Regions from separate parts of the Homo sapiens genome. Here region 2 is linked to region 1. The links come from fine-mapping of genetic effects on gene expression. A gene starts in region 1. The other region holds a variant in brackets. All regions are shown on one strand. Distances are between the middles of the regions. Region 1 holds the start of LDLRAP1 (low density lipoprotein receptor adaptor protein 1). Region 2 overlaps LDLRAP1 (low density lipoprotein receptor adaptor protein 1).

Region 1 (2,899 bases):
CTTCCACGTCCCCAGATTCAGAGATATTTCTTTCTAGCCTCCCTTCCCTTGCCAGCCCCCCTTCCTTCAAAACCACTTCCCTGGGGGCTGCCCCACCACCCTCCCTCCCTCATTCCTGGAGAAAACCCGCAGGATTCTCCCACTGGAACAGATGGCCATCTCAGAAGTCCTGGTCAAATCTTGCCAGTTTTTAAAGGGTCTATTTTGGGATGCAATCAGTGTGATAAACGGTACATCCCCTGGCCTAGTGGCCCAGCCCTAATGGGTCTCTGACCCCACCCCCCACCAGCAGGCACCACCCCACATTCCCAATGCCAATGCCAGTCTCAGCTGGGAGGCGGCCACAGCTGAACAACAGAGTGGGGCCAGAGGAGGAGGGAGGCGGGCCCTCTAGGCCCAGACACGCTGGCACTCCTTGGACCAGGGAGCTCGGGCTCCCCTGGCAGAGCCCTGTAAGGCCAAGAGGGGATGGGATGAGGGGGTGCTGTACTGTCAGTTGTTTCCTGATGAGGGGAGAAGCTGTGGCCCGAAGTAGGTGGCAGGGAGGTGGGAGTGTGCAGCAGTCCTGGGCTCTGGCTCCAAAACCAGCAGGAAGGTGTGTGTGACCCCAGGCAAGCCACTCTCTTCTCCCTCCCAAACAACGAGACCTGCGCTAGGCTGGGTCTTCTGGCTTCAGGGGAAGGTGCCAGGTGACAAGTTCCCTGAGCGTAATCAGAGACTGGGGGAGAGAAAGGGGGGGAGGCCCCTCCCAGCCTCCCAGACGCCCCAGGGAGAGGTGGCGGCGAGTCTGTCGTTTGCCTGGGCACCCAAGGGACTCTGGAAGCCCGAGGGGAAAGGTGCGAGAGAAAACAGGTTTCAAAAATAGTCGGGACGCCAGGCTTGCCACCTGGACCCGGCTAGAGGAAGGGACGTAAGGGTCTAGATCGCCTGATGTGGGGCTCTCCCGAGGCACCCCAGGCGGGGCCTCGTTCCCAATTTCAAGTACGTACCTGCGACCCCGGGCTCACACCTGGATGGGTGTCTGGGCACCCGGAGTCAAAAGTTGGCCCGGTGGGTCGGGCAGGGGGCGGGAGAACGGGCCAGTGGGCTCCTGACCGCCGCAGCTGCTGGCTGGGGCGCAGGGGTGCGGGACGGGGGCGTCTTCCCAAGCCCCTGCGCCCTCTCCTCCTCCCCTAGGCACCGACGACGAGCGCCTGCCTCCCCCTAGCTGGCCAGGACAGCAGGGCGGGAGGTGCCGCGGGTGGCGGGGGCCTCTTCTCCCAACCTGCACCCCACCCCATGCCGGCTGCACCTGAGGACCCCGAGCTCGGGCTCCTTCCTCAGCGCTGCCCCTCCTCGCAGCGGCATCGAGCGGCCGGCGAGTAGGTGCACAACTTGACCCCGGCCGACCCCCTGCCCCGCAGGGCCGGGAAAGGGCCACGCCGGGACCGGAGCGCCGGTGAGGCCCCGCCTCTGCCCAACTTGGCCGCACTCCGGGCGCCCGCGGAGGCCCCGCGCGCCTCTGCCCGATCCCGGCCCGGCCCGGCTGACGCGCGCACACTCACTGCGGTGCCGGCCACCGCCCCCCCAGCTCTGCTTGGCCAAGCTGGGGCTCCGGATCAGCGCCCGCCCCGCCGACTTGAGCGCGTCCATGGCCCGCTCCGGCCGCCGCCGCCGCTGCCGCAGCCAAAACTCCGTCAGGAAAAACTTTCCGCCCGGCCCTGCGGCGCGCGGGCTGCGCGCTCCTCCCCTCCCAGCGCCAGCTCCGCCGCGGCGTCCGACGGGGCGGGGCGAGAGAGGACAGGCCCCGCCCCCAGACGGGCCGCGCCCCCGACGGCCGGTCTCGCCCCGCCCGGTCCCTGTCCAGGCTCCAGGTCCAGGCACCAAGAGTTTCCGAGGCCGCCCGAAGGCGCCAGAAGATAGCAAATCGCAAGCCCTAGACGCCCCCGCTTTCCTCCTTTTCCCCAATCCCCACCCCGTAGGGGCCTGAGGGCCTGAGAGCAGCGGCCTAGGATTTCCAGTGACCATTTTACAGATGGGGAGACTGAGGGCTCCTCCAGTGGTGAAAGATCTTGTTCAGGGACAAAAGCAATGCGATGTCCAGGGCAGTGGGAGACTTAGGAAATAGTGGAGGCTGTAAGCCAGGGATATCCAAACTTTTGGCTTCCTTAGGCCACATTGGAAGAAGAAGTGTCTTGGGCCACACATGAAATACACTAACACTAACGACAGCTGATGAGCTGAAATATATATATATACACACACACTCATGTTTTTTGTTTTTCTGTATTGTTTTTTTTCCCCTGAGACAGAGTTTCACTCTGTTGCCCAGGTTGGAGTGCAGTGGTGCGATCTCGGGTCACTGCAACCTCTACCTCCCGGGTTCAAGCTATTCTCATGCCTCAGCCTCCCGAGTAGCTGGGATTACAGGCATGCACCACCATGCCTGGCTAATTTTTGTATTATTAATAGAGATGGAGTTTTACCATGTTGGCCAGGCTGGTCTCGAACTCCTGACCTCAAGTGATCTGCCCGCCTCAGCCTCCCAAAGTGCTGGGATGGCTGTGAGCCACCACACCCTGCCCAAAAAAATCTCATAATGTTTTAAGAACCTTTACCAATTTGTGTTGGGCTCCATTCAAAGCCGTCCTGGACCTCACATGGCCAGTGGGCCACAGGTTGGACAAGCTTGCAGTATAGACCCTTGTTAGGCGCAGGGTCGGTATATAAAAATTTGCCTTTAGCAAGTCCAGCCAGGCACTTTACTCATCCTCGTAGCTCCCAGGCTGCTCCCTGGCACCACCTGAGCATGCTGGGCCACCCCATGCCCCCGCAACTTCCCAGGTAGCCTCACAGATGGTATGATCTGGAACGTGCCCCTGACACTGACTTGCTGTGTGACCTCAGGCAAGTACTTCCC
Region 2 (2,899 bases), 26 kb before region 1:
AGAGAGCAGGGTTCAAATCCCAGATCCCCGAGTGGATGTGAGACTTTGGTCAACTTGTTGATCCTCCTTCACCCTCAGCTGCCTCATCAGGAAAATGGGACTAGGACCACCTACCTGGTAGCATGTGAGGTTGCAAGGACTAGTATCACCAGTGTTAGGTGCAAAAGACCTAACAGGCCCAAGGGTTACTTTATTTTTATTTTTATTTTGAGAAGGAGTCTCATTCTGTCGCCCAGGCTGGAGTGTAGTGGCCCGATCTCGGCTCACTGCAAGCTCCACCTCCTGGGTTCATGCCATTCTCCTGCCTCAGCCTCCCAAGTAGCTGGGACTACAGGCGCCCGCCACCACGCCTGGCTAATTTTTTGTATTTTTAGTAGAGACGGGGTTTCACCGTGTTAGCCAGGATGGTCTCGATCTCCTGACCTCGTGATCCGCCTGCCTCGGCCTCCCAAAGTGCTGGGATTACAGGTGTGAGCCACTGCGCCCGGCCGGGTTACTTCTTAATATACAAACGGGCACCTCCTCTGATGAGCACCTGGGAATGGCCGGAGGAAGACCAGGCCCCAAGCCAGCCCCCCAGATGTGAATCTGCCCCTATTCCCTAGCCAGGCTTGTTGAAAAGTCCCCAGATGTACATGGGATGGGATCTCTTCCTGGGAGAGCAGACCCCAACATCCACCCAGTGAAGCTGAAAGTCACGTCAAATCTGAAAGGCGACTTTGTTCTCCCTGGCTTCATCCCTTATGCATGAAAGAGCAGACGGCTGGCGCTCAGGATTCATAATCCGAGACATCCGGAGACTAAAGACATTGGCCAAATTTAAACCGAAAGATAAACTTGTTGGGTGTCTTTTCAGATTATGAGGGAAAGAAGAAAGGGGAGGATTTCTTAGTCATCCATGAACCACTGAGAATTCACAGGGAGTCAGCCTGATGCTGATATGAGGGCTCTGCCTCTGGGTTCTGGACGCTTAAAATACCAGTTTCAAAGGGATAAAGAGATACATGTCCAAGTGGACCCCCACAAGCCACAGCTGAGGGGCAGAGGCCTGGGGAATCTCCGGAGAGTGGCTGAAAGAACCTGAAGAGAGTGGCCTTTCTGTGAGGGTCACCGCACAGGTCAACAGGTGGTCTCGGGCAGCATATGGCCAGACTGGGCTCCTGGGAAGCCAGGACATGGCGGGGTAAGGGCCACACAGGTTGGCGGCTCAGCTGTGGCCCCGCCCAGCACTTGAAGCACAGCTGCCTTCCTCTCCCAGCCCAGTGTCCTCAGCAGTAACGGGAGCTAATGCCATCTGCCATCTGCGCTCAGCACAACCGTTGCAATATGGTGCAGAGCTCAGCACAACACCCGGCACATAGTAAGAGCTCAGTTAACACTGGTTGCTAACTATTTTACTTTACCATTTTTAGACATATTGAGTTCCAGTTGCCTTTGGTTCTGAGATAACCTGAATGCACAAGTGTTCTACCAACAATGTGATGATGGTCACC[A/G]CTGAGTCACACAAAACCCAGGGTGGTAAAAAGCGGGGAGGTCATTGCACCATTTTCACAGACGGGAAAATCAAGGCTCAAGAGGTGACTGATCAAGTGTCACAGCCTCCAAGTGGCAGAGCTAGGGCTAGACCCTGAGTCTCTCAAGACACTGAAATACTTCCCACCATCCCCCAACACACCCAAACCACACATCCTGAGTTCATCTGGGCCACGCCTGGACCCCTGTCCCCAGTACTGAGACCCAGGCCCAGTCCACGTTCAGCCCGGAGCAAGTCTGTGGAATGATAAAGTGTTGCGGATCCAAAAAGTGATGGAAATAATGGACATCCTCTCTGTGGAAAACGCCCACGTGGACACGTACACAACCTCATGCACACTGCAGGGGACTCACAGCCTGGCCACAGTCCCCCGCCGGGGCTCTCAGACGCTTCAGCCGATGCACCAGATCCCTGGTGTAGCCTCCATGAGTCATCCAGAGGTGACCTCATCACACACACACCCAGCTGCTGGGTGAAAAGGGGGCCCCACTGGGCCTTCAACCCCAGGAACCTAAGACCATCACCCCCACTCAGTGCTGCCCCTGGGCACGCGGCCCCACCCAGCCTGTGGTCACTGCTGCTGCCATCCCCAAAGGGCAGGAGCCGCCGGACGCTGCCGCCAGTCTACTCCACCTGATGAGCGTTGCTTGAGTTTCAAAACGAGAACATTTATTATTTGTTTTTTCCTCATTAAAGTTTCACAAATAAAGCACAGCAAGACTTGTCTGCAGACACACAGGAGGCACACGGACAGCCCGTCAACCAGAGATGGAGACGAAGGCCAGCGTGGCTCTCACAGGGCAGCGCTTCTCAGAACCCCTGGCCCCCCTCGTGCCAAGGCTGGCCTGTGTCAGGCCTCGCCCACGCCGCCTTATGACAAATAGAGGCCGGTGCCAAGGAGGTGGCTACAGAGCAGGGGCAAGGAAGTTATCCTCATGTTCTGATAATGACCCTGCAAATCCCACCCCACCCTCAGGCACCTCCGTCTAAGGTGTCCGGTTACTCCAGGTAAGGAGGTTCCCAGGAGGGCCGTGTTTTCCCTAGGGCTGATGAAACTTGCTCCGACAAGCCAGGCCACTGGGAGGCACCTCAGGATGGAAAAGATGCTGGAGGCTTTGCTGGCTTTCAGGATGCCGGGAGCCCCACGGGGGCAAAAGGGGAGGAAGGAAAGCGATTCTAAAGACAGATTGCTGCTGGTCTGTCCCGACCCAGGGTCACAGTGTCAGCAAAGAGAACAGCATGATTCTGACAGGGTTGGATTTTGTTTCACCCTCGGAATGAGCAGACTTCAAACACTTGCATTTTCACGGAAATCAACAAGAGAGACAGCTAGCAGGACACGAGGCTCCTGCCAGTTCTGTGTGG

The links.
Region 2: its variant is fine-mapped to the expression of LDLRAP1 in whole blood (INTERVAL, PIP above 0.99).

What each region holds. Positions count from the first base shown.
Region 1 is chr1:25,542,432-25,545,330 of GRCh38, reverse strand. LDLRAP1 (low density lipoprotein receptor adaptor protein 1) reads right to left here and starts at 1,725. Exons shown (of 9, transcript NM_015627.3): 1 at 1,545-1,725. The coding sequence starts at 1,632. RefSeq lists silencers at 1,226-1,405, 1,436-1,895 and an enhancer at 1,996-2,055.
Region 2 is chr1:25,568,169-25,571,067 of GRCh38, reverse strand. LDLRAP1 (low density lipoprotein receptor adaptor protein 1) reads right to left here. Exons shown (of 9, transcript NM_015627.3): 9 at 2,182-2,899. Among named protein-coding and RNA genes, the nearest start is that of LDLRAP1, 26 kb to the right of the region's middle. RefSeq lists enhancers at 2,105-2,828, 2,829-2,899. The variant A/G (reference allele first, on the strand shown) is at 1,494.